7 linked regions of the Homo sapiens genome follow. The protein of the gene in region 6 purifies or fractionates together with the protein of the main gene of each other region. This does not show direct contact. Each region holds a gene or a part of one and is shown on either strand. Other genes may lie near its edges.

The links.
Region 1: the proteins of PACC1 (region 6) and HEATR3 purify together in Homo sapiens (co-immunoprecipitation; 3 studies listed by BioGRID and IntAct, with this or other methods). This does not show direct contact.
Region 2: the proteins of PACC1 (region 6) and DAB2IP purify together in Homo sapiens (co-immunoprecipitation; 3 studies listed by BioGRID and IntAct, with this or other methods). This does not show direct contact.
Region 3: the proteins of PACC1 (region 6) and DCUN1D5 purify together in Homo sapiens (affinity purification with mass spectrometry; 2 studies listed by BioGRID and IntAct, with this or other methods). This does not show direct contact.
Region 4: the proteins of PACC1 (region 6) and CDK5RAP3 purify together in Homo sapiens (affinity purification with mass spectrometry; 2 studies listed by BioGRID and IntAct, with this or other methods). This does not show direct contact.
Region 5: the proteins of PACC1 (region 6) and MZT2B purify together in Homo sapiens (co-immunoprecipitation; 3 studies listed by BioGRID and IntAct, with this or other methods). This does not show direct contact.
Region 7: the proteins of PACC1 (region 6) and MPZL1 purify together in Homo sapiens (affinity purification with mass spectrometry; 2 studies listed by BioGRID and IntAct, with this or other methods). This does not show direct contact.

What each region holds. Positions count from the first base shown.
Region 1 is NC_000016.10:50,072,470-50,075,969, forward strand, and holds part of HEATR3 (HEAT repeat-containing protein 3), read left to right. Parts: intron 1-135; coding exon 136-245; intron 246-3,101; coding exon 3,102-3,242; intron 3,243-3,500. UniProt on the Homo sapiens protein: Plays a role in ribosome biogenesis and in nuclear import of the 60S ribosomal protein L5/large ribosomal subunit protein uL18 (RPL5). Required for proper erythrocyte maturation.
Region 2 is NC_000009.12:121,658,134-121,661,633, reverse strand, and holds part of DAB2IP (disabled homolog 2-interacting protein), read right to left. Parts: intron 1-3,500. UniProt on the Homo sapiens protein: Functions as a scaffold protein implicated in the regulation of a large spectrum of both general and specialized signaling pathways.
Region 3 is NC_000011.10:103,089,361-103,093,491, forward strand, and holds the start of DCUN1D5 (DCN1-like protein 5), read right to left. Parts: upstream 2,801-4,131; 5' UTR 2,513-2,800; coding exon 2,427-2,512; exon of another isoform or gene 2,324-2,426; intron 1-2,323. UniProt on the Homo sapiens protein: Contributes to the neddylation of all cullins by transferring NEDD8 from N-terminally acetylated NEDD8-conjugating E2s enzyme to different cullin C-terminal domain-RBX complexes which is necessary for the activation of cullin-RING E3 ubiquitin ligases (CRLs).
Region 4 is NC_000017.11:47,977,613-47,981,112, reverse strand, and holds part of CDK5RAP3 (CDK5 regulatory subunit-associated protein 3), read right to left. Parts: intron 3,282-3,500; coding exon 3,203-3,281; intron 2,285-3,202; coding exon 2,196-2,284; intron 521-2,195; coding exon 315-520; intron 1-314. UniProt on the Homo sapiens protein: Substrate adapter of E3 ligase complexes mediating ufmylation, the covalent attachment of the ubiquitin-like modifier UFM1 to substrate proteins, and which is involved in various processes, such as ribosome recycling and reticulophagy (also called ER-phagy).
Region 5 is NC_000002.12:130,185,262-130,188,244, reverse strand, and holds part of MZT2B (mitotic-spindle organizing protein 2B), read right to left. Parts: intron 1-2,983. UniProt on the Homo sapiens protein: Required for the recruitment and the assembly of the gamma-tubulin ring complex (gTuRC) at the centrosome.
Region 6 is NC_000001.11:212,404,887-212,408,386, forward strand, and holds part of PACC1 (proton-activated chloride channel), read right to left. Parts: intron 1-3,500. UniProt on the Homo sapiens protein: Chloride channel gated by pH that facilitates the entry of chloride ions into cells upon exposure to extracellular acidic pH. Involved in acidosis-induced cell death by mediating chloride influx and subsequent cell swelling.
Region 7 is NC_000001.11:167,766,982-167,770,481, reverse strand, and holds part of MPZL1 (myelin protein zero-like protein 1 isoform a precursor), read right to left. Parts: intron 1-3,500. UniProt on the Homo sapiens protein: Cell surface receptor, which is involved in signal transduction processes. Recruits PTPN11/SHP-2 to the cell membrane and is a putative substrate of PTPN11/SHP-2.

The sequences.
Region 1 (3,500 bases), on a different chromosome or scaffold from region 6:
TCGATAAAAATGGTGGGTGTTTGATTCCAACTCCTTGGTTTATAAAGCCTCGTTTGTTTTTTTATGGATTGCTATGGTTGATTTCCTACTGTTAAAATGTGAATAGTAAAACTTTTTTTTCCCCCTTCAATTTAGTGAATGCAGTAGTAGAGCAGTGTCTATATTCAACAAAGAAGGGTGTTTGGAGATTGTGTTAAAGTATTTAAGTAGGTTTCCTACCAATGTTGACCTGGCTATTTCAGTAGGTAAGTGAAGAAAAGGTGATGACTTATTAAGAATGTGTAGCCTTATTCAAAAATTTTTATGCAGCTTTGGCGTGTTTATTCCACTGGAGTGATTTTTTGTTTCGTTGTATGTGAATGTGTAGCTCAGCACCTGTTTTTTCTGGGTCTTAAATCTGTGATTAATATTAATTCTTTACCTACTCATTCAGTTTTTCTGCTTTTGACTCTGAAAGGGAGAAAGGTAATTATGTGAGGATATGTGGTTTCTAGCCTGTTTCCATTCTTAGCAGCCTTTATTAATTCTTGAAGTTTTCATCTCCATTTACTAAGAAACAGTAACGCACAACTACCAGGCCTTTAAGCCAGTTAATTGGAATCTAAACTTATTTAAATGTATTGTGCTACTATCTCATACGTCCAGCAGAAAACTGACGGCCTGAGTTTTGTTGAGAGAAAAAGAGGAAAAGAAATGATTGAAATTCCACTTAGGCCTTCATGCCTTCCATGAGACAGGGAAGGCAAAGTCCAGCAACTTCAGTGGCTTTGGCTGCCTCGCCTTCTCTTTATTGGGCTGGGGAACCACTGGGGACCCTCAGCTCAGTGGCAGGAGGCAGAAGTCAGAGCATAGGCAACTCAGCAGAATTCTGGGTGGGAGTGGAGAAACAATTGAGGGAGAGCATTTCTTTTCTACCGATCATTACTGCGGGCATCCAGCTGTCCCTTTGTGGAACTGCATTTCTCCTGGGGAGGAAGAAGTGTATTCCCCTGACTGCTGTTTTTCTTGACTCTAATGGATATTTTTAAGAGAACAGAATTGAGGGAAAATAGTAGAATAAATACTACTGAGAAAATTTTAAAAATCATTTCTCTAAATGGAATCTTGGTGGGGCTGGAGAGTTGTGAGTAAATGGGGATTTTAAAAACGATTCAGCCATTTTTAGGAAATTGATAGGTGACTTAATCTCAGAGGACAGTTTTTGTTACAATAAGAGAACTTCAGGAAAGTTAGTTCATATCTTTTACAAGAAAAATCACTTCTATTTTTGTGCCTTTAGTCTTATAGATTTATTTCTGTTTTTAGTTTTTCTTCCCCTTAATGAGCGTTTTTGAAATGGATTAGAATAGTCATTTTGCATTGTATAATAGTGTTTTCCTTCTCCATGTAGCTAGATTAATGATTTTTTAAAATACATTATTACTTTTGCTTCTAAAGTCAAGCAATGCTTACATATAGTAAAATGAACTTATAAGATTCCATCCCATGTATTCATATAACTTTTTTTGAACCTGTATGGTAGCAGTCATGGCTGTTGGCTAAAGTAAATTTAATTAGTTTCTTAATGACAAAGATATTACATTTGGATATATGTACAGAAATGCATATATGTGGATTTCCATATAAATGTATCATCAACCACAGCAGTAGCATGCATTTTGAGTAATTTTGATGGGCATGATTTAATATTTTACACATCTCTTAATTTGCTCATACTTTTATATAAACTACTTTTTTTCTTAAAGAGCTATTGCTCTGCCAGAAATAACCCTAACTTTGAAGGTCATGATAAATTTAAAGGAAGCCAGACGTCCCAAAACCTAAGGCTGTTTGCTACTGGTCCTTGATAAGTACATAAATTGAGGGTAAAATTTTTTTTTTTTTTTTGAGATGGAGTCTCAGCTCTGTCACCCAGGCTGGAGTGCAGTGGCGCAATCTCGACTTACTACAACCTCCGCCTCCCGGGTTCAAGCTATCCTCTTGCCTCAGCCTCCCAAGTAGCTGGGATTACAGGCGTGCATCACCATGCCTAGCTAATTTTTGTGTTTTCAGTAGAGATGGGGTTTTGCCATGCTGGCCAGGCTGGTCTGCAACTCCTGACCTCAAGTGATCCTCCTGCCTCAGCCTCCCAAAGTGCTGGGATTACGGGCATGAGCCACCGCACCCGGCCTGAGGATAAACTTTTATAAACATTTATAGTAACGACATTGCCGCATTTAAGAGTCTTTTTAGGCTGGGCGTGGTAGCTCACACCTGTAATCCCAGCACTTTGGGAGGCTGAGGCGGGCGGATCACAAGGTCAGGAGATCGAGACCATCCTGGCTGACAAGGTGAAGCCCCATCTCTACTAAAAATACAACAAATTAGCCAAGCATGGTGGCGGGTGCCTGTAGTCCCAGCTACTCGGGAGCCTGAGGCAGGAGAATGGTGTGAACCCAGGAGGCGGAGCTTGCAGTGAGCCAAGATTGTGCCACTGCACTCTAGCCTGGGCGACAGAGCGAGACTCCATCTCAAAAAAAAAATAAAAGAGTCTTTTTAATTGTATTTTGTAAAAAGTGTAGATCTGGCTGGGCATGGTGGCTCATGCCTGTAATCCCAGCACTTTGAAGGGCCGAAACGGACAGATCACTTGAGACCAGGAGTTCCAGACCAGCCTGGCTTTCATGGTGAAACCCTGTCTCTACTAAAAATATAGAAATTAGCCAGGCATCATGGCGCATACCTTTAATTCCAGTTACCTGAGAGACTGAGGCACAGGAATCGTTTGAACCTGGGAGGCAGAGGTTGTAGTGAGCTGAGATGCGCCACTGCATTCCAGCCTGGGTGACAGAGCAAGACTGTCTCAAAAAAAAAAAAAAAAAGTATAGATCTGTACAGGATTAGAAATTTAAAAAGAAAAGAAACATGATCTTTTCCAGCACTGATAGTTTGGGAAGCCTCATTTGCGCATATCACCCTGAGATAAAGCATATATATTTTGCAAAACCTACATGTGTCTAATGAAGTGGTAATGATACAATGTTTTATTGATGAGTTATACTGGTGTAAATTATCCAAAGCAGAATTCATTTGTTTCTAAATACTTATTTTTTGCCTCGTAGCATATTGTTTGCAGACAGTGACTGAGGATAACCCAGAGCTGCTGAAGTCTTTCAGTGCTACAGCATTGAACATGCTGGAATCAGCACTGCTTTCTCCTGTCAGTTCCATGGAATCTCTTCTATTGAAGACATTGGTAGCAGGTAAAATTTAGCCTTACGGCATAGTATATTGTTTCAGTAGCTTTTGGTATGGATGTGGTGGGGGCAAAATTTAGTCATTCATTTCAACACATTAGGTCTTCTGTGCTTTTATCTGTTCTGAAAATTTTAATATCTGAGAAGAGACCCTTACTTCAAGCAGTTGTCTATAGTTGTAAATCCTTGTAGAATAGATTTGTTTCGAATTTAACAAACTACTGTTAACCTGATAAAGAGATGCTGTTGTCAGGATCCCCACTT
Region 2 (3,500 bases), on a different chromosome or scaffold from region 6:
TGTCTCCCGGGGACCTTCCATAACTTCTGGAAGAGAGCCTCTTCCAGAATTTCCCCGACACACAGGAGCCGGAGCACTCCCTGTGCTAGTAAAACCGGCCCTTCCCTCTGCAGACAGCATTGCCAAAGTGGGGGAGGGGGGCCACAGCCTGGGTTCCCTGAAGCTCAGGGTCCCAGGAGAGTTCAGAGGCTGCTCCTGATGGGGAGAGACACTTACCCCACCCTGTGTGCTGCTAAACCTACAATTGTGAACAGGTTTCTAGATACCAGGTGGAACCATGACTGTATTGACAGTTAATGGGAAATCCAAGCTTCTCTTGCACCCCCATTTTCACCAAACTTCTCCAATCCTGTCCTATTCTGCACCCCACACCTCCTCTCCCCCAAATAATCGATCCCCTGCAGGCTCCAGCACCTTTCTCGCCTTCTCCTGAAGCTGCTCCCTGAAAAGCCCCTTGCCCAGTCTTGTGCCAAAACCCCTGCAGCATCAGCATCCAAGGCAGGCCCATCAGCCATGTCCACAGCCTGCCGGGCATCCCCCACCCCAGCCCTCAATGACCCTCATCCTCCCGCTTCTTCACGCCTTTCCAAGGGCCTTATCCCACCACCTTATCCCACCACCAGCTCCCACTCCTCTCGCTGTAAGGACGACCCCTGGACTTCTCCTTCGTGGGTGTCAGCCTACCATCCTGTGAGAATTCCAGGAACTAGTTCAATGTCTATAAATGAAAACTATGAAGTAGCATAATATGAGGGTGGGCCACACAGAACCACTGACTTCTTTTCTTGCCAAATATAGATGTTTAAAAAAAAGAACACCATTTAGTATGGTGCATACTAGACATTTATGTATTGCATAAAAGGAATGTTCTAACCCCAAAGAATCCAAAGACCATCATCTCAGAATAAAAAAGAGGCATCAAAATGGGTTACTGAAGTGAAATGGATGTTATGGGAAACTCGCTGCAATGCCCTTACAGTCCTCATTTCACCGCAGGCCAGGGAGAGATCGTGGCAGGAGCCCAGCACTGGCCCTCAGATGGCGGCATCCTCTCTCCTGTGTCAGCCCTTCCAAACTTCCCAGCTCCTCTCCACCTGCCCTCTGCCTTCCCCCATCCTGCACCTGCCGGCCTCCTTCAAAATTCCCCAGGAAGCGGACTGGCCTCCCTGCTCCCTCTTCCCACTTTCTTCTCCCTGCACCATACCAGTCTAGCTTGAGGGTTGTTAAGAGTTCTTTTCCTAAATCACAGCTCTGGTAAGTATAGTGAGGGTTAAACATCCTGGACTCTGCCACTCAGTAGCTGGGTGATGCTCAGCAAGTCACTTAACCAGTCTGAGCCTCAGTTTTCTCATCTAGAAAGTGGAGCTGATAACACCACCTGGGAGAATGATGATTTAAGGCAGGATGCATGTAAAGGACTTAGAAGAACCCCTGGTGCTGTGTAAGTGCTCAAGACATGGAGATCACTGTTATCATTCCTGTTATTTTCAAAATCCTTCCTTTGATTCCCAGTGGTCTGCCAGGGGCTGTTCTCCCCTCTTTGCTCACCACTCAAGGCCCTGCCTACCTTTCCAGTCACACCATCTGCTAACCTTATGCCAAGACTCTTCCCCTTGGCCTCTGAGCTCCCGAGGGCGGGGGCTGGCTATATCTGCTGTGGCAGCCCCTGGCACCCAGGTCACACATACTAGGTGGCTCGCTAAAGCTCTGCTGCTCTGAACAAGTACCAGTGAGACCTGTGGCAGCCTCTCAGGGTAGGGATGCCGAGAAACCACCTAGGTGGGTCCAGTCCCCACTGGCATCACGTTTTCTTTCTTTTTCTTTTCTTTTTTCTTTTTTTGAGACGGAATCTCGCTCTGTCACCCAGGCTGGAGTGCAGTGGCGCGATCTCGGCTCACTGCAAGCTCAGCCTCCCGGGTTCATGCCATTCTCCTGCCTCAGCCTCCCAAGTAGCTGGGACTACAGGAGCCTGCCACCACGCCCGGCTAATTTTTTTGTATTTTTAGTAGAGACGGGGTTTCACCGTGTTAGCCAGGATGGTCTCGATCTCCTGACCTCGTGATCCGCCCACCTCGGCCTCCCAAACGTTTTCTTTCTAGATCAGCCCTAACTGATTTGCAAGCAACCCCTCAGACTTTGGGTGAACAGCTAATAATGACAATTCTCCTGGCCTATAATGACACCCTATGCTGCATCATATCTATCTGTTACATGTGCTTCTGAGCCCAGAGATGTTCAGTGACTTGTCTGCAGTCACACAGCATTTATGACCTAGTCAGGACTCTGTACACGCTCCTAGGCCAAACTCTGTGTCCCCAGAATAGAGGTGTAAATGGATAGAAAAACCAAGCTTATTCCAGATTACCAATTTATTGGTTTCCAGTCTCCGAACCCAAAGTCCACAAATCTCCATGCCAAGCAGGACAGTAGGAAGGAGTCATCTCCGACTGCCCAGCACCCTTGGGCCCCACTCTCTCCTCTTCTCCCCTCTCTCCCTCATCAGCCAGGGGCTTGGGGAAGGAAGGCAGAGCCTCATGGCCCCAACATCTCCCTCCCTGTGCTCTGCCTTTTTTCATTTCACAACTATGTCGGCACATCGCCTCCAAAGGCCAAGGAAAAAGAAATAGCACAGCCCAGATGCCGATAGTACTCTCCTGTCTGTCAGGGAGAAGAGAAGAGGGAAATAAAAGCTAACAAGGCTTCCAAAAGCAAAATCCCCAAACCACCTCTCAGGTACCCAGCAGCTGTCAAAGTCAACACAGGAACCTGGCGAAGGGAGGAAAACCCATCCCCAATAAAACCCAGGCAGTTGTGGATCTGAGATTCGGAGACTGAGCACCGCCGCATTTCCAAGGGCGTGATGGGCGTCCTCGGTGGTGCTTCTCTGCTAACATACAGGTGGTCTGTCTAGACCGAGGAACCAAGCCTGTCTTTGCTGAGTATCGAGTCTACTTTTTTTTCTCGTTATTATTATTTGGAGGGCTATTGAGATTCCCTTGCTTCCTTATTTATGCAACTGGGAAATCACAGCACAGAGAGCTGCTTCCAAACTGAAGGCCACATGGGCCAATTTCAGATGGATAATTAAATATTGAACAAACGCTGAAATGCCTCTACTGAATCGGGATGGCTAAAAATAGCCACCCCGCCACTCCTAGAGCGGGCACGCGATACGTGGGCATCTCGGCTGCTCATTCTCAAACCCCTCCTCCCTGCAACTGTCAAGCGCAAGCTTCCAGGGAAACAGAGGAGGCAGAGGGAAATAGACTCCCCGAATACCTACTTAATGGAAAACAAAACTTCAGCTCCCAGCAAGCTCTGAATGTTCCTGACCAGGAAATACTCTCCCTTTCCTGACATTTAACCAAGTGGCCCCGAGAGGGAGGTGCAGGGGAAATATCACAGCCATTGCCTTTCTCTTAAAAATAGTCAAAAGGCTTCATGTCATTTCTAAAGCAAAACACGTATGCAGCCTGGGATGTGAGCGTGTTTGTGTCAAG
Region 3 (4,131 bases), on a different chromosome or scaffold from region 6:
ACTCTTAGAGAAAAACTAAGTTCAAAATTAACAACTTCCATTCACATTAAACAAAGGTTTTTTTTTTCTTCGGTTGGCATTGTTGGAAAAAAACTGAAGTTGTTAAGTAATTGCAACTTGAAACAGTAGTCTATACATAAGAATTATCGGCTAACAAAACCCAAATACCTTTTCACTCAGTATCAAAATCCAAAAATATCAGTAAGTTATTTCCGCACATTTTAAAAGACTACAAAGAAGTTCAACCTAGTAGGTGGGAAAGTATAAATATTTATTATGATTCTATTGATTTGCATAGAAATTCTATTTGTGTGTAATAGATAAATATTTGAAAACAAACTCTTACAAAGTATATTTTGATACTTAATGAATCAATATTTCAAAATAAAATGTTATATTAAGAGTTGTTTTATCACCTAAGCTTAAATAGATTTTTAAAGATAAATGATGACTTAGGACCTAAGGGTATATTAAATTACACAGATTTAAAAAAAACAACAAAAAAACACTAAAAGTTAATAATAGTCCAAATAATTGGGACAAGGCTATTTAATCCTAGGTTCTGTTCATTCTATTTCATTTTTTTCATAAAATCATTTTCATTGTTTTTCATAAAATAACTAAAATTTGGTAAGTTCAAAATGGCCTCTAGAATTTAATGGCCTTCAGAGAAACTTTTTTCAAGGAACTCAAATAATTACCCTACCACAATGATATAGAAATGATAGAACTTCTGTAACTGAGTAAAGTAAGAGTATCATATTTAAAAATTTAAATTGATAGAGCAAAGTATCACCTGAGTTCTAATAATACTGCCTGCTCAGCTATCTTAATGTACTTAACTTAAATAATTTTAATACATTATATACTTAAGATGGCCATGATATAGTACAAAAATGAATAATAATTTGCCTGTATCTTATAAAAATGTGAGCTACTAAAGTAACCATGTCAAATTCTAATGTTGACAAACAAGAGGTGTATGTATCATCGTTCACATTAATAGCCTAATACTCCATAGACTCCTTTACCAAAACACAGTAATGAGGGAAAAAAGTCGACCAATTACAAAAAAGAAGATGCAGACTATGTAAGTCATCTACCTCACAGTTTAAGCAGATCTCTCTTTAAGGAGAGCTCTATCATTATTTCCTTCTTATAATCCTGGCTACAGTCTCCTTTCAATAGTAGCATCTGAAGTTGTCATATCAAGTGCCAACCATTGATGAAAAGGCAGCTAATATGGTTATTTTTTAAAAAAGCATTTCTCAGTCGGGCGAGGTGGCTCACTCCTGTAATCCCAGCACTTTGGGAGGCCGAGGCGGGCGGATCGCGAGGTCAGGAGTTCAAGACCAGCCTAGTCAACATAGTGAAACCCCGTCTCTACTAAAAATACAAAAAATTAGCAGGGCGTGGTGGCGGGCGCCTATAATCCCAGCTACTCAGGAGGCTGAGGCAGGAGAATCGCTTGAACCCGGGAGGCGGAGGTTGCAGTAAGCGGAGATCGCGCCACTGCACTCCAGCCTGGACAACAGTGGAAGACTCCGTCTCAGAAAAACAAAACAAAACAAAAAAACAAAAAAACCATTTCTCAAACCAAAATTGCAGTTTTTTTGTAGCATAAATTTTGCTGTGATGCCTCCATGATATGCTACAAGGGGATCAAAGAGCTACTACTATATAGTTCTGCCTTGTCTTCTTTCTTACCAGTAGGACAGAGTACAAGAGCTCACAAATTATTTAATTTATGCTGAGAGCTAACAGCGTCCTGAATGCTAGAAGACAAAAAGCATGCAGGGCCTTTCCAACTCTGCACACAGGGACTTGGCATAGGTGAGGCACTATACTTCCAGAAAATGGGGCTCCTGCAATTTAAAAGGCCTCCTGCTGGGACCTTCCGGGTTAGGCCACTCCAAATACTAAATATGGAGGCCAATTATAGCATACAAGTTTTCCTTTCTACCATTCCCAAGACAGTTGTCAAGATTCCTTATGTTCTGCTTTCTTCACACTCTACAAAGAAATTCTAGAAGTGACCCTTCTGCGGATATGTACTCACTTCTAAGTCTAGAAAAAGGCAGAGGAGCGATACGGGAGTAGGGGATCGAGGGTCGGTTGTGGGGTGGGGGTGGGGGTGGGGGGAAGCGCAATTTACATATGCATCTGTTCCCCACCCTGCAGGGCACGTAGACTCTTAACGTGGGCGGCTCTTCTAGTCTCTCCATAAACGCCAGCGTGCACACACTCGAACACGAGGTCGGGTCGGGCGCGGAGACTCGCGGTGTTCGGCACCTACAGCCTAGCTCGATCAAAGGGGCCTCACCTGTCTCCAGCCCCAGCCCGGCAGGCCGGGCCCGACTCCTTTTCCTCCAGTTGTCCAGCAAAGGAGGGAGGAGGGAAGCTTGAAGGGTGGGGGGAGATGGTACCTGGAGATTTTACACTTTTTGAGGCCTCCGTCTTCCGCTACTGCTGCTGCCACCCCAGGGGATTTTCTCTTCTTCTTCACCGGCATCTTCCGCCCTCCCCGGCAGGGTGGGCAGGGGAGCCGGGGAAGGGGGTCCCTGTCCGCTGGAAGCCCCTCAGCGCTGGCACCCAGTTCCCAGAGACAGCAGCAAGCGGAGGAGCAGAGTCGCCAGCCCGCACCGGCGCGGCCCAGCCCGGCCGCCGCCCGCTCCCAGGTATCCTCGTCGTCTTTCTCTGACCGGGACAGGGCTGGCTCCTCGCCGGTGGACACTGCGGTTCGTTCTCACCGGGAGGAGATAACGCGGACAGCGCGGCAGCTCCACCAGTCACAGCAAGCAAGAGGCTCAGCCTAACCCGGAGGCGAATCGCTGAGGCCCGGAAGTGACGCAATCGCGGAGCCGGTCCCGGGAAGGGGCGTGGTTCCGGTTAGCCTCTGCCACTCGTAGGTAGGCCAGGCAGAGCGAAGCTGTCTGACCCGTCGACTGCGGCAGTCCGCGGAATTCTTGTATCCTGTCCAGGGTATCCTGACCTTTCTCATGAAGCTTCTACCGCGCTCTGATGCTGGCAGTCACCGCCAAAAAGTGAAACTACTAATACTTTGCAGTTGACGTTAAAAACAACCTGGTAAAGTAGACCAAGTTCCACTTCTGAGCTCTTCCACACGATAACCTCACCTGAAGTGTTCCCACCCCGTAAATGCATTGTCACCCTGTGTCTTGCGTGTTTTTTTTATGGGCCTGTGATCAGCCACCCACTCCCCCTTCTCCCTACCTTTGCATATCACTTTGTCCTGTATTGAAACTTAGCTCTGCCATTATTTCCACAGAGCTCACCTCTCCGATAAGAGACAGTAGGTGACTGCGACTCAGTAGAGAGAAATTTGGGGGACAGTTCTAAGGAACCTCCCCCTAGACCCAAAACACACTGTAATCTATTCATCTCCACTTAGGTGGAAATACTGTTTTTAAATAATGGTTATTGTATGTAAAGACATAGTAGAAAGTCGTTAGTAATTCTGTTGGTAAAATAATCTCTGCAAACCAACTGTGATGGGAGAAGACTAAAAGTCTTTGAGTAATAGTTGAAGTGGTTCCTGTGAAACTACCCTCACAATGGCACCCTAATCTGGTCAATCCGAATATCATATTTCCTTAGTGTTATTAATTGGTTCAGGATGGACACATACTCAGGCCAGGCCAATGAGTGCCAATGACACAAAATTGAACCACCAGAAAGCAATTTTATTTCCTATGGATTTGAACCAGAGAAGGTATGGAGAATGAAGCCAAAACTCAGAAGAGACTAGTATCAAGCAGAAAAATAGAAAAACCAGGATGTGATTATATGATATGAGCCCAAAATCCATGATATGCCCTGGAATTTTCACTTATGTGAAGCAACAAATTTCACTATTTTGCATATTTAGTTCAATTCTCTGTTACTTAAAACCAAAAGAATGTCAAAGTATATGATCCTTCAACCCATTTAAAAATGCCTGAGGCCAAAATCAAAACAGAATCAGATAAAGTCTCTAAATAGAACTACCATCTACAAAAAGTACAGGACAGAGGAACATGTTAAATACCCAATGCAATCAGCAATATCTAGACGTCAGAAAAGTCTACAGGACAATGACCCAAATTCTGCAACAAATTATTAGGACGAGAG
Region 4 (3,500 bases), on a different chromosome or scaffold from region 6:
TCCCATTCAGCTGCTGGGGAGGTGAGAGGCTCGGGAAACCAAACCCCCAACTGGCCGCTTACCCTCACATCCTTAAACCCTTTCCTTTTAAGGAAAACCCACTCCCAGTTCCCCTGTCCTACTCAGGAAGCAAGCAGATTCTTCCTGTATATGTGAAACCTCCCCCTCTTGTCCCAAAGAGAACCCCTATCCCCAGTGGATGGCAATGGCCAGGAGGCAGGGATGGGGTTTAAGGGGTCATGGAACAAGAGGAGGAATACAAGGAGGCAGAGCTGCTCAAGATGGCAGAGCCTTGCATCAAGGGGAAGCCAGACCTTGGTGAGGCCAGGATCATAAACAGGTGTTGCAGCTGAAGACTGGTAAGCTTGCCAATCAGATCCTCCAGCACTGACACCATGGTAACCATCTTCTCTTTGGTCTGGCCCTGCAGGATGGCTGGAGCCAGCTGGAACTGGCTCACAGACAGGACATCTGCCTCCTCACTCAACTCCACTGCTCTCTGGGCTAAGAAGATCTCAAGCTGAGGACAGAAGAAAGATTGGTTCAGGCTGTACATGATGGCTCACACTTGCAATTCCAGCACTGTGGGAGGCCAAGGCAGGAGGATCGCTTGAGGCCAGGAGTTCAAGACCAGCCTGGGAAACGATGAGACCCTGTCTCTACAGAAATGTTTAAAATTAGCCAAACATGGTGGTGTATGCCTGTAGTCCCAGCTACTCAGGAGGCTGAGGCGGGAGGATCACTTGAGCCCAGGAGTTTGAGGTTATAGTGAGCTATGATTGCTGCACTGCACTCCAGACTGGGCGACAGAGAAACTCTTTTTAAAAAAAAAGGAAGAAAGAAAAAAAGAAGATAAATTGGTTCAAACTGAGAGAAGAACTCAGAATCTAAGCCCTCGGACTACTCGAAATGCAAAAATGAGACATGAGGGCTAGACTCTGGGTAAGGAGTTTCCTCTGAACACTGTAAGCGCTAGGAGAGACTACTGTCACCCTTCAGTCCCCACCTCCTATCTCATCCTAACCCCAGACCTCTGTCCTTTCTCCCCAGCCTGGGATCAGATAACTGAGAATACAGAGACTCAAAGGGTTCTCTCTGCCCAGGGAAGGTATTTATTTTGTCTCCATGGGAGGAATGAGATTCAGGGAACAGAAATACATGTTTGAGAAGCACTGGATTAAGGCAAGGCTGAAAAGAATACAAGAGCCAGCCATATTAACTTATCAATCCTATTCTGCCGTTAAAACTTCACAGATATCTTTTGTCCTCTCCCCTTGAGGCTGGGAGGAGCCTCTGGGCAGAAAGAGGAGAGAACTGGGTGAGGACAGAACTTTCAGGAGGCTCTCCGAACCAGCAGGCTACTGGGAAGGGAGCAGATACAGAGATTAACAAAGACAGGACCCCGTCCTCCCAGCCTTACAACAAAGGTCCAAGAACGCTGGCTCCTTACGCTGGGCTGCTCAACACCTTAGCCACAGGGATCGTCCTTAAACACAAATGAGATCATGTTCCTAACCTGCTCGAAACCTCCAACAGCTTCCCAGTTCACTCAGAGGCAAACCAAGGTTCAGACGCTACATCTCTGAGCTCTTCTACTCCCCACCAGCTCTCTCTCCTCAGCCACACCAGCCTCCATGTTGCTGGTCAACTGTGCAAGGTCTGCTCCCACCTCGGGACCTCTGCACTTGCTCTCTCTGCCTGGGAAGCCCTTCTGCCAGACATCTGCATGGTTCTCTCTGCACCGCCTGCAGTCTTGATTACAGGTCACCTTCTCAATGAGGCCTTCCCTGACCACCAGATACAAAACCATAGCCCTTTCCAACATCCTCGTCATCCTCCCCTACTTTCTCTTTCTCCGTGGCATTTGGTGCCATCTAGCATCCTGCATATTTTATTTATTTATCTTCTTTCCAGTCTGCATTCCCCATTAGAATATAAGCTCCATGAGGTCAAGGACTTTGACTGTCTTATTCACCACCCAAGTTCTGGTGCCTAAGGTAGTGCCAGGTGCCTAGGAGGTACCTGATAAGTAACTGGATGAATAGGAGGCATCTAATACGTGAGGCTCCTGCTGTAGGACACAAATAGCACTCACACCCTTCACACAAACAGGAGGGGTCAGGTCAGGCATCTGGAGTGAAGCCACCTGTGCTGGTGCCATGCCTCCCCCCTGCATCTTCCAGAGATGACAGTACCTCCATGAGCTCATCAAGGAACTGATTCCGGGTCTCAGTGTATTCAAGCAGTGTCAGGGCATCTGGGCCCCTGGCAACACCTTCTGGAGCTGCCAGGAAGAGACAGAGAAGTGATAAAGGATCAGAGGACTGGAGAAGGAAAAGACCCTCAAGTGTGAGAAGCCCTGGAGGATTAATACGGACAGACTCACTGTGCTAAAGCCACTTCTTGTTCTAATCCAAGGGGGAAGGCTACCTTGTCCCAGGTGTCTCAGCTCTAATCAGGTACCACTTTCCAACTCCCAGACTGAGAGGAGGACCAGAGCTGGGTTCAGAGGGGTAGAAAGGCCGGCTCTCTGCTCTGGTGGACCGCAGGAGGTAAAGTTTCATCCTGCACCGCCCTCTAGTGGCTCAGACACCACTACGTCTTCTCTGCTGTTGGGGCGGGGGTCATGTCACACTCCAGGGCCCCGATCCCCCTAGAGCCCTCCTACCATAACAGCTGGCCCACATGTGGTCTCTAAAAAGTTGAGAGTTTCTAAACTCTCAACTTTTAAGAACCTCTCTTGGGCCAGGCACGGTGGCTCACACCTATAATCCCAGCATTTGGGAGGCCGAGGCAGGTGGATCACCTGAGGTCAAGAGTTCGAGACCAGCCTGACCAACATGGAGAAACCCCAACTCTACTAAAAAAATATAAAATTAGCTGTGCGTGGTGGTGCATGCCTGTAATCCCAGCTACTCGGGAGGCTGAGGCAGGAGAATAGCTTGAACCCAGGAGGTGGAGGTTGCAGCGAGCTGAGATCATGCCATTGCACTCCAGCCTGGGCAACAAGAGCGAAACTCCGTCTCCAAAAAAAAAAAAAAAACCTCTCTTGGTCCCCCTCAGCTCACATCCTCATCAAGGTTTTGAGAAACAGTTAAATGTGCAAGAAGCCTCATCTTAGCGCTGCATTTTTTGTTTCTAGACACGTGGGGGCCCTTGAGCACCCCACTTTTGCCAGGGCTGCAGGGGATGGTGCACTTACCCTGGGTTCCTGCTTCCAGCACTGTGATCTGCAAAGCAACAGCATCGTCTCCCCAGTCTATCCCATCACCTCCAGGATCCTGGAAGGAGAGCAAAGAACCACAGCAATGGGGGGAGAATTTTCCTGAGCCAAGGAGCCAGAATAAACCAAAGCCCTTGATGAGGTCAATGGCTGCACATTCCAACTCTATTAAGGATTTGCAGCCCTGACTTAGGTGCCAAAAATGGCAGTATGGCCCATCATCCCTGCTCTGTAGTGTTCCCACCTGCCTTTACCCCTACACCCTGTACCAAACACC
Region 5 (2,983 bases), on a different chromosome or scaffold from region 6:
AGCTCCCCACAGCACGCAGCATGGCAGGCCGCAGACTTGGGCCTGACTCAGAGTCGGCTTCCCTTCAGCTTGCTGCCATCTGAGCTTCCTCTCCTCCCCTCAGCAATGACCCAGTCCCTTCTGGAAACAAGGATGAGAGGGAAGCAGAAAAGAGCAAATAATGCTTTTTTTTTTTTTTGAGTGGTGGGGGAGGGGGGTTTAGAGACTGAGTCTTGCTCTGTCACTTGGTCTAGAGCACAGTGATGCAATCACAGTTCATTGCTGCCCCAAACTCACGGCCTGGAGGGATCTTCCTGCCTCAGCCTCCGATGTAGCTGGGACTACAAGCATGGGGCCACACCTGGCTAATAATGCTTATCTTTAAATCTGACAGGGTTGACAAACCCTGGAAATGTGAAACCAACATAACTTTAAGCCATAACTGATACTAAGAAAATCCTGGAAATCTTCAGGAATTGTGCGCTCTCAGGGTTAGTGGGGAGCCCTGTTCAGGCCTCCTCACTTTATGAAGGATGAGAAGGCCCAGAATAGAATGGCCTGCAGTGCCTTGCAGTGGGGAAACCAGCTTTGCTTAGCCCTGCTCCCTCGGGAGGGGCTACTGAGTCAGACGGGCTAGACAGTGGGATTGAACCAAGTGTGGCTGCAGGTTGGGGTGTGAGGGCGGGGTGACTGATGCCCCTACGCCTGGTCCCTGGAGGGCCCTCCTAAACGCCAAAGATAGTCAATGACCATTGAATGTTGAAAACAGCCTGGCTCAGCAGGGGTCAGTGGCTCATGCCTGTAATTCCACTACTTTGGGAGGCCAAGGCGGGAGGATCCTTTGAGGCCAGAAGCTAGAGACCAGCTGGGACAACACAGTGAGACCTCCATCTCTACAAAAAATTAAAAAATTAGCCACGTGTGGTAGTGTGCACCTGTAGTCCCAGCTACTCAAGAGGAGGTGGGAGGATTGTCTGAGCCCACGAGGTTGAAGCTGCAGTGAGCTATGAGTGTGCCACTGCACTCCAGCCTGGGTGACAGAACAAGACTGTCTCAAAAATAAATAAATAAATAAAAAGTAAAAGAAAATGCAGAATTAGCTCAAATACTTTAATCTAAAATATCCAACGTATTATTTCAATACGTAATCAGTACATAAGTTATTCATAAGATGTTGCATTCACCTCTGTTCTTTTTCTTGTTTCTTTGTAGAAATGGGTGGGGTCTTGCTATTTTGCCCAGGCTGGTCTCAAACTCCGAGCTTCAAGTGATGATCCTGCCTCAGCCTCCCAAAGTGCTGGGATTACAGGTGTGAACCAATGCCCAGCCTCATTCACTTTGGGGTTTTTTGTTTATTTTTGAGACAGGGTCTCACTCTCTCACCCAGGCTGGAGTGCAGTGGTGCAGTCACAGCTCACTGCAACCTCAACCTCCCAGGCTCAAGCAATCCTCCAACCTCAGCCTCCCAAGTAGCTGGAACTACAGATGTGTGCCACCATGCCCTGCTAATTTTTGTGTTTTGTAGAGATTGGGTCTCCCTGTGTTGCCCTGGCTAGTCCTGAACTGCTGAGCTCAAGAGATCCAGTAGCTGTGGACTCCCAAGGTGTGGTGGGTTTTTTGCATTCCCTTTTGTACCGGTCATTTGGCATCTGCTGTGCATACCACACGCAGTGCAATGACCATGCCAGCCATGTGTGGCTCAAGGTTCCTGTATCAGGCAGCACAGCTCAGGTGAGATGGCTTCCACACTCCAAACGTCATCTTACATGCATGCTCTGGACAACTTTTAAAACGTATAGTTTCTCTAAACTTAAATAGAACGCTTGACTGAATTTATTTTTCCCTCAATGACTCCAGACTCTCACCAAGACAAGCATTGCCCCTCTGTGCTTCTGGGGTTTTCTATTTCCCCTTCCCTGTGGGTATGAGTGAATCTGGTGGTGGTTGTCCCCACAGGCTGTCTGGATGGCTGGGGGACAGGCATCCAGAGGACCCAGGGTGCCTGCTGCAGCTCAGAGGCAAGCTTGAGAGGGCCTGGCCCACAGCCTGGAGAACTCCACACCCGAGTCCTGTGGGAAACCTATGGCCTCCATGCCCCCCAGCCGGATCACTCCAACAACCCCCCTTATGTCCTCCACCCCAGATTCTGCCATTACCAGGGCAGCCGGAGCTCTGTGTGGTCAGATGCTGTAACATGTGGGCCTCAGAGAGCTCTCAGCATTCCATCTGTGGCCTCTGCTTCTCACTCAGCAGCACACTCCTGGTGTGGCCCCACATCTGCCCCATTCCCCTCCACCTCCTCCTCAGGTTCCACTCTATCTCCACAGGGCCTCGGTGCCCTCATGTCCTGGCTTTCTGCCACCCAGCCTACAGGACCTGGGCTATGCTTCCAGGACAGAGCCCTCAAGGAACAAATGACCCTGAGGGTCCCAGCACTCCAGGCCACTCCTGTCCTTGGGTAAATTCTCTCGGAGCCCCCATTCGCTCACACAGCACCCCCTAATCCTCCTGGCCCCTCTATGCCTGCATTTCCAGTGCCACAACCCTCACATACATCTTGACCGTGCCCCCCCACCTGCCTCCTCCCGCCCCCGGCCTACCAGCACCTGGACAGCGCTCTGCCTCACCCACGCCCTCCCACTGCCCCAGCTCACACGTGTGGGGCTCTGCCGACCCCCCTCCTGCTGTAACCCTTGTTACCCCCCTGTGTAACCCTTGCTGCTCTCTGGGCTCTGAAGCCTCCTCCCATCTCCATTGCTAGCGGTTTTTCTTTTTTTTTTTTTTTTGAGACAGGGTCTTGCTCTGTTGCCCAGGCTGGAGTCCAGTCACAAGCTCTTGGCTCACGGCAACATCCCCCTCAGGCTCAGGCGATCCTCCCACCTCAGCCTCCCAAGTAGCTGGGACTACAGATGGGCGCCACCACCATGCCCACCTGGCTAGTTTTTTTTTTTTTTTGAGACGGAGTCTCGCTCTGTCCCCCAGGCTGGAGTGCAGTGGTGTGATC
Region 6 (3,500 bases):
GCCTCCTGAGTAGCTGGGATTACAGGCATCTGCCACCATGCCCCGGCTAGTTTTTTTGGTATTTTTAGTAGAGATGGGGTTTCACCACGCTGGCCAGGCTGGTCTCGAACTCCTGACCTCAGATGATCTGCTCGCTTTGGCCTCCCAAAGTGCTGGGATGAGCCACAGTGTGAGCCCCTTCAGGTGTGAGCCACCACGCCAGGCCCCTTCATTAATTTTGAAGCACCTGACTCTACCATTTCTTTGGCCCTCATTCATTCATTCCAGTTAGCTCAGTTGCTCCTAGATGAGAGGCTCTCTTGCTCTAAATCTCCACTGCTCTCCCCCAGAGGACAAATAGGTACTGAGTACCTACAGTACTCATACTTCTATGGAGTCATACTTCCATACTACACTCCACACTAGGCACTGGAGTTACAGTAAAGGAGGAGAAGACAAAATCTGTGTGCCTCACAGAACTTGTAGGGCAGTGCCAAGGGATGGATAACAATTAACTGAATAATTAAACTCAATAAATGTGACCTATCAACTGTGTTAACTGTTACAAAGGAAAGCATATCACAGGGAGAAAGGGACCTCATCAGGGAAGTCAAGGAAGGCTCAGAAGGAGGGACAAGTTCTTCCTTGGGTAACCGGCCTTCTGTCTCTATATGCCTGAGTTCCTGGAGGAACTTACTCACCCTCTTTGTGGTGTCAGCACTTGGCATAACAAGTGAAGCAGTCCTTAATTGATCTGCTACAGGGAGGGGAGAATTTGGAGCAGGAAAGCTCTCATCTAGGAACAACTGAGCCAGAGTCAGAACACCTTGCGAGACAGCTCTGGGTATGGATTTGAGCCCTGCCACTCATGAGCTCTGAGCATATTCCTTAACGTCTGTGCCTTGGGTTCCTCATCTATAAACTAGGACTAACCGTTCACCTCACAGAGTGGCTGTGAAGATTACAGGATAAAGTGTATATAAAAAGCCCTATAGGCTCAGAGCAATGGCTTGCACCTGTGATTCCAGCACTTTGGGAGGTCAAGGCAGGAGGATCACTGGAGCCCAGGAGTTTGAGACCAGCCTGGGCAACACTGCATGACCTTGTCTCTAAAAATAATTTAAAAATTAGCCAGGTATGGTGGCGCATGTCTGTAGTCTCAACTACTCGGGAGGCTGAAATGAGCCATGATCACACCACTGTACTGTAGCCCAGTCCACAAAGCAAGGTCCCACCCCACAAAAAAAAAAAAAAAAAAAAAAAAAGCCCTAAAGCCCTACACAGGCCTAGTACATGAAAGCACCCCCAAAATGGCAACCACTATCACCATTACCATTATTTTTATTATTATTATTAGAAGACTCAAAGGGGCCAAGCATGGTGGCTCACGCCTGTAATCCCAGCACTTTGGGAAGCTGAGGCAGGTGGATCACTTGAGGTTAGGAGTTCAAGACCAGCCTGGCCAACATGGCAAAACCTCGTCTCTACTAAAAATACAAAAATTAGCCAGGAATGATTGCAAGTGCCTATAATCCAGCTACTCAAGAGGCTGAGGCATGAGGACTGCTTGAACTCAGGAGGTGGTGGTTGCAGTGAGCCAAGATCGTGCCACTGCACTGCAGCCTAGTTGACACAGGGAGACTGTCTCAAAAAAAAAAGAAGAGTCAGAGGCAAGAAATGAGCTCTGAGAGTTGTGTATCAGTCCATCAAATTTGAGCCAACTCACTACTGACCCAGCCAAATGGACTCCTGAGATCTGAATCTTCTGTGATTTAGAAAGGAGATGAGCCCAGCTCATCTGGTTCCCCCAAAGCAACTGGGAAGGCTACCCCAAAGCAAGTGGGAATGCTCTTGCCAGTTGATGGAACTACCCAAAATTTGCTCTGCCTGAGGCCTGGCTTCCTATTCTGATTGACCCCAGGCTTTGCAGCCCCAGGAATCTGAGGCAAAAGAGAGGCTGCTAAGGTCCAAGGACATTAGGGCCACCTCCTGATTTACCTGGGCACTTCTCTATGAAAGGAAACACAAAGACAAGCCTCATCTTTCCAAGTCTGGCCTCCCTCCTCTTCTTTCTCCTGCCTCCATCTATGCACTTCTGGTTGGGGGCAAGAGGGTAGTGCAAGGTGTGGTAGGCAGAATAAAGGCTCCCAAAGATGTCCAAGTGTTAATCCTTAGAACCTGTGAATATGTCAAGTTGCATGGAAAAGGGGAATTAGGGCAGCAAATGGGACTAAGGTTGCTAATCAGCTGACTTTAAAGCAGGGAGATTATCCTGGGTTACCTGGGTGGGCCCGATGTGATCACAAAGGCCCTTTAAACACAGAAAAGGGAGGCAGGAGAGTCAGCATCAGAGTGATGTCATGTGAGAAAGACTCGACGAGCCACTGCTGGTTTTGAAGCTGCAGGAAGGGGCCACAAGCCAAGGAATGCAGGAGGCCTCCAGAAGCTAGAAAAGGCAAAGACCAAGTTCTCTCCTCAAGCCCCTAGAAAGGAATTCAGGCCTGCTGACAGCTTAATTTTAGCCCAGTGAGATCCATTTTGGACTCCTGACCTCCAGAACTATAAGATAATAAATTTGTGTTTTTTTAGGCCACTAAGTTTTTGGTAATTTGTTATAGAAACAATAGAAAACTAATATACAGGTCTTTCAAGTTGTTCTCCCGGGAGCCTTAGGGCTTTAGAGGCAATGCCTCATGTCAGAGGGAGGATTAGCCGTGCTACTATCTTTTACATATTGGGCTTTAATAAAAGAATGCTTATTGTTTTGTGTGAGTGTTTTTGGTTTTTGTCTGTTTGGTAGAGGCAGGATCTCATTTTATTGCTAAGGCTGGTCTCAAACTCCTGGCCTCAAGAGATCCTCCCATCTTGGCCTCCCAAAGTGTTGGGATTACCACCACTTAAAATAGTTTTTATAAACCACTGATGTAGGCCAGGTGCGGTGGCCCACGCCTGTAATCCCAGCACTTTGGGAGGCTGAAGTGGGCGGATCACCTGAGGTCATGGGTTTGAGACCAGCCTGGCCAACATGGTGAAACCCCATCTCTACTAAAAATAAAAAAGTAGCTGGGTGTGGTGGCACACGCCTATAGTCCCAGCTACTTGGGAGGCTGAGGCAGGAGAATCACTTGAACCTGGGAGGCAGAGGTTGCAATGAGCCGAGACTGTGCCACTGCACTCCAGCCTGGGTGACAGAGTGAGACTCCATCTCAAAAAAAAAAAAAAAAAGAAAACACCACTGGTGTAGTAGAGAGAGTTTAGGGTTGGGCAGAGTTTGACTCAGTCTGTGTTTACCAGCTATATGACCTCCCCATGCTTTACTCAACCTCCCTGAGGTTGGGGGCCTCATCTGTAAAAGGGGGATAACCACTTCACAGGGTTGATGTGAGAATTAAATGGGGCAAATGGGGTACGACAGATCCTGGCACAGGAGAAGCAGTCAGGAAATGTTAGCTGCCCTTCCAGCCTCCTTCCTTCCAGGCAGTCTTTTTTTACTTTATTTTATTTTTTTTTTTGAGGCAGAG
Region 7 (3,500 bases), about 45 Mb from region 6:
TAGCCCCTTTCTCTTTCCACTCCTCAGTCTCTCCTCAGTCCTGCTTTCAGCAAAGGAACTGTCTTCTCAAAGTAAACCTTGTCAAACTCAGCACCTGGAAGCAGGGTTAAGGCCCAGTGGGAGGGGATCTATCCTCACACTTGGCTCTAATCCAAGCAGCTATGCTGGAGGCCTGATGTCTTTGTTCTGGTTAATGGACGGGGTGATGGTGGAGCTGGGGATAGAAACCAGCTCTATTAGCAATTCAAACAGAACATTTTCAGAACCCTTTGAGCACGGTGAAAACCCCAGTGCAGACTCATCCATTCCTATGATTTAATGATCATCTAGATTTTCTTAACTCCCAAACCTCTCTCTCCATCAATAGCGTCCCCTAAGCTCTAGACTCCTTGCCTACTCACTTTACCACCTGGCTGCCCCTCTCCCCCAAGCTTGTCACCCTCTCTTACAAACTTCATCTTCCCCTCTTCATGTATCGTGTCTTCACTGATGGCTACTGTTTCTTTCCAAAACCATAAATCTTGAAGTCATCCTTGATTCTCTTTCTTCCTATCCAGTTAATCCCCCAATATTGTCAATGTCTCATTAGTTTCTCTCAGTTCTCTCTTCTCTCTATTCGGTTCCCACTGACAATATCTGTTTTTATGTTTTCATCATCTTGGACTATGGCCTCTTAACTGGTATGTCTAACTCATCATCTTCCACAATGCCTAAATGATCACTGATAAAGAATAATGGTTATTATTATAACATTTATCAAATATTTACCCTGCATTTCATATGACCTAAATGCTTGTTAAGAACCGTGAAGGGTCTGAGATTTTACCCTACTTACAAGCTAACAAAGTTAGTTGGCCACAGGTTCATAGGTGCTGACAGAAGACACGGACTCCTGTGAAATCTTCACTCCCATGAAGAAGACTCAGAAACAAAGAACCTTATGAGCAGAAAGCATGTGTTTGTTTCTCTTGCCCCGCAAGTCCCATAGCCATGACATGGAGGGGCTCACATGGATGTTGTGCAGGCAGAGGCGTTGCATCACAGCCGAGGAACCCCAAGCTCAGGGAACACTATTCTCTTACAAGGGGCAGAAGACATGTCTGACTTCAGCCCTGAAAGGAGACACTACCTTTACTATACTCAAGAATACACAAATTTGTCCTTTGCTCCAGAGGGTAACATCATCTCTGCCTTCCAAAGCTAGTTACTGTATAAAAAAAGTCCAGAACAAAGGCAGCCAGTGCCTTTGCTAGCAAGGTGTGCAAAAACGTGAAAGACCCATAGAAAACTGTCTCCCAACAACTCTCTAGCCCTCACAACCACCCTGCAAGGTGAGATTCGCCTACCTGATATTTCATAAATAGGGAATGTGAGGCTCAGGAAACCTTGGTGACTTTCCCAAAGTCACAGGTTTTAGAGATGGAATTCAAACTCAGCTCTGATTTCAAAGCTTATGCTATTTCCAATGTTTAAGGCCTCTCAGGTGAGATCATGTCTTATCTGTTCAAAGTTCTTCACTCTCTCTTCTTCACTAGAAAATGAACCATAAACTCTCAGCTTTGCAAATGAATCCTTCCATCACCTGCTCTCTGCCTTCCCTTCCCACAACATCTCCACATATTCCCTGCCTTGCATTTCTGAACCAGCGGGGATGAGCTACATGATGCTGTTTCTCAGCACTGGGTCTGAGACAGCTCCCTCAGTCAGGCTCCCTCATTGAATGGGGGCCATTTGAAGGCAGAGGATAAGATGTATTTATCTCTGTACTCCTTAGCACTTTGGACACAGCAGGAACTACATAGTTTGCTGAATCAAACTGAGGAATAACGTCTTGGTCAAACCAGTGAGAGATGGAAATAAAACAGTGAAAAATTCACAGAAAAGACTAGAATCATTATCAATCAATATTTTTAAAGTACAAGCCATGGTGCTAAAGCTATGAGGTATACTAAAGATGTAAGACAGGCAAGTCCTCTTAAAACACCCATATTCAGGAAGAAGAGGAAAACTGTCATATTAAGGGATCTGTATTATAGGAATGGCCCAGATAAGGGTAGTGAGTTTTAAGGGCTAAAAGGTTAAAAAAAAAAAAAGAGGCATTATGGAGGAGACAGAGGGTAAAAATGGGGTACAGCTTAAATGACAAGTGTTCAGAAGTAGGAAAACAAAGCACAAAGCATTTTTACTAAACTGGAAGTGATGCCATAAGAGAACAGAAGTGAGGCTAAAGTGGTAGGCTGGGCCAAATTGTAATGAGCTTTTAATTCTAGACAAATGTTGTCCACAATGGGAATCTAGGTTCCTGATAACCTGCAGTGGCAAGGTGAAAGAGCTGTTCTAAGACTATGCACCTGCTGGCATATGAGGGTTGGATTGAAAGATGAGAAAAACAGAAGCAGAAGAATAACAAGGGGCTACTGCACAAGACCAGGCACACAGTTAACATTGCTCAATAGACAGCAGAGACACAGGAAGGCTGACAAAAAGCTAGACACCAGAAACAAAGTAGGAAGAACCAGCAAAGGTTCTTATTTCTTGGGGGCAGAAGGGAAGTGGTAAGGGACAGGGAAGGAAAGGACAGAAAACACAAAACAAAACAAAACAAAACAAAACAAAACAAAACAAAATGATTACAAAACTCATCTGCAGATGAACACAATTAACCTAAAAAAAAAAAAAAAAAAAAAAAGCAGAAAAGGGAAACAGAAGGGAGAAAAAATGAGTTCAGTTTCAGACATGTGGATCCCAAGGCCATGGGCCAAAAAAGCCATCCACAGTATGGCTTTTGAATATACTGGGTTTGAATATACTTTTCCTGTAAAACCTATAAAAACAAAAAAGCAACCCACTCATCTTATTAAATGTGTCCCGACATTTTGGAATTAAAGGATCCTATGTCAATAACTGAACATGCTGGGATTAACTGCAATCAGACTCGTGTGTAAGTATAAATTGATTAGCTAAAAATATTAATCAGAATTACAGCATGTTCTTAATATTAAGTTTTGAGTTATGTAAACCTTCATGGACCTACACGACAAGACTGTTTCCAGCATAAATGGAACCGCTCTTTAAAAGAAAGTTATTACCTCTGGGTGGCTCTCACACCCACTCTTGCAGAAGACTTCAGTGGGAAATCTTTAAATGTTTAAATAGTTCTTTGGACTCTCTTGAGTAAACTTATGTGTTTAATCTTGCCTCTATGGGAACATTAGTGTATGTTCTATGCTGATGCCATATTTACGTGAAGCAGAGAATGCCTCTTTATGTCTTTCCATGGTATCTGTATGGATTCCTGTGCTCACCCTTATGGCTACTGTAAGGGAAGGCCTCTCTTATAAAGACCTCTAGACTATGCATTCTCCATAGGGGAGATTCTCCCCCAAGGGAGCAAACACTGGCTCTTGGGTGGGAAGCTTTGAGAAAATCTTTCTCTTTTATATGTAAAACAGTTGCAGAGGATATCTACAATATTAAAATTTCATGGAAGGGGGCAGAGA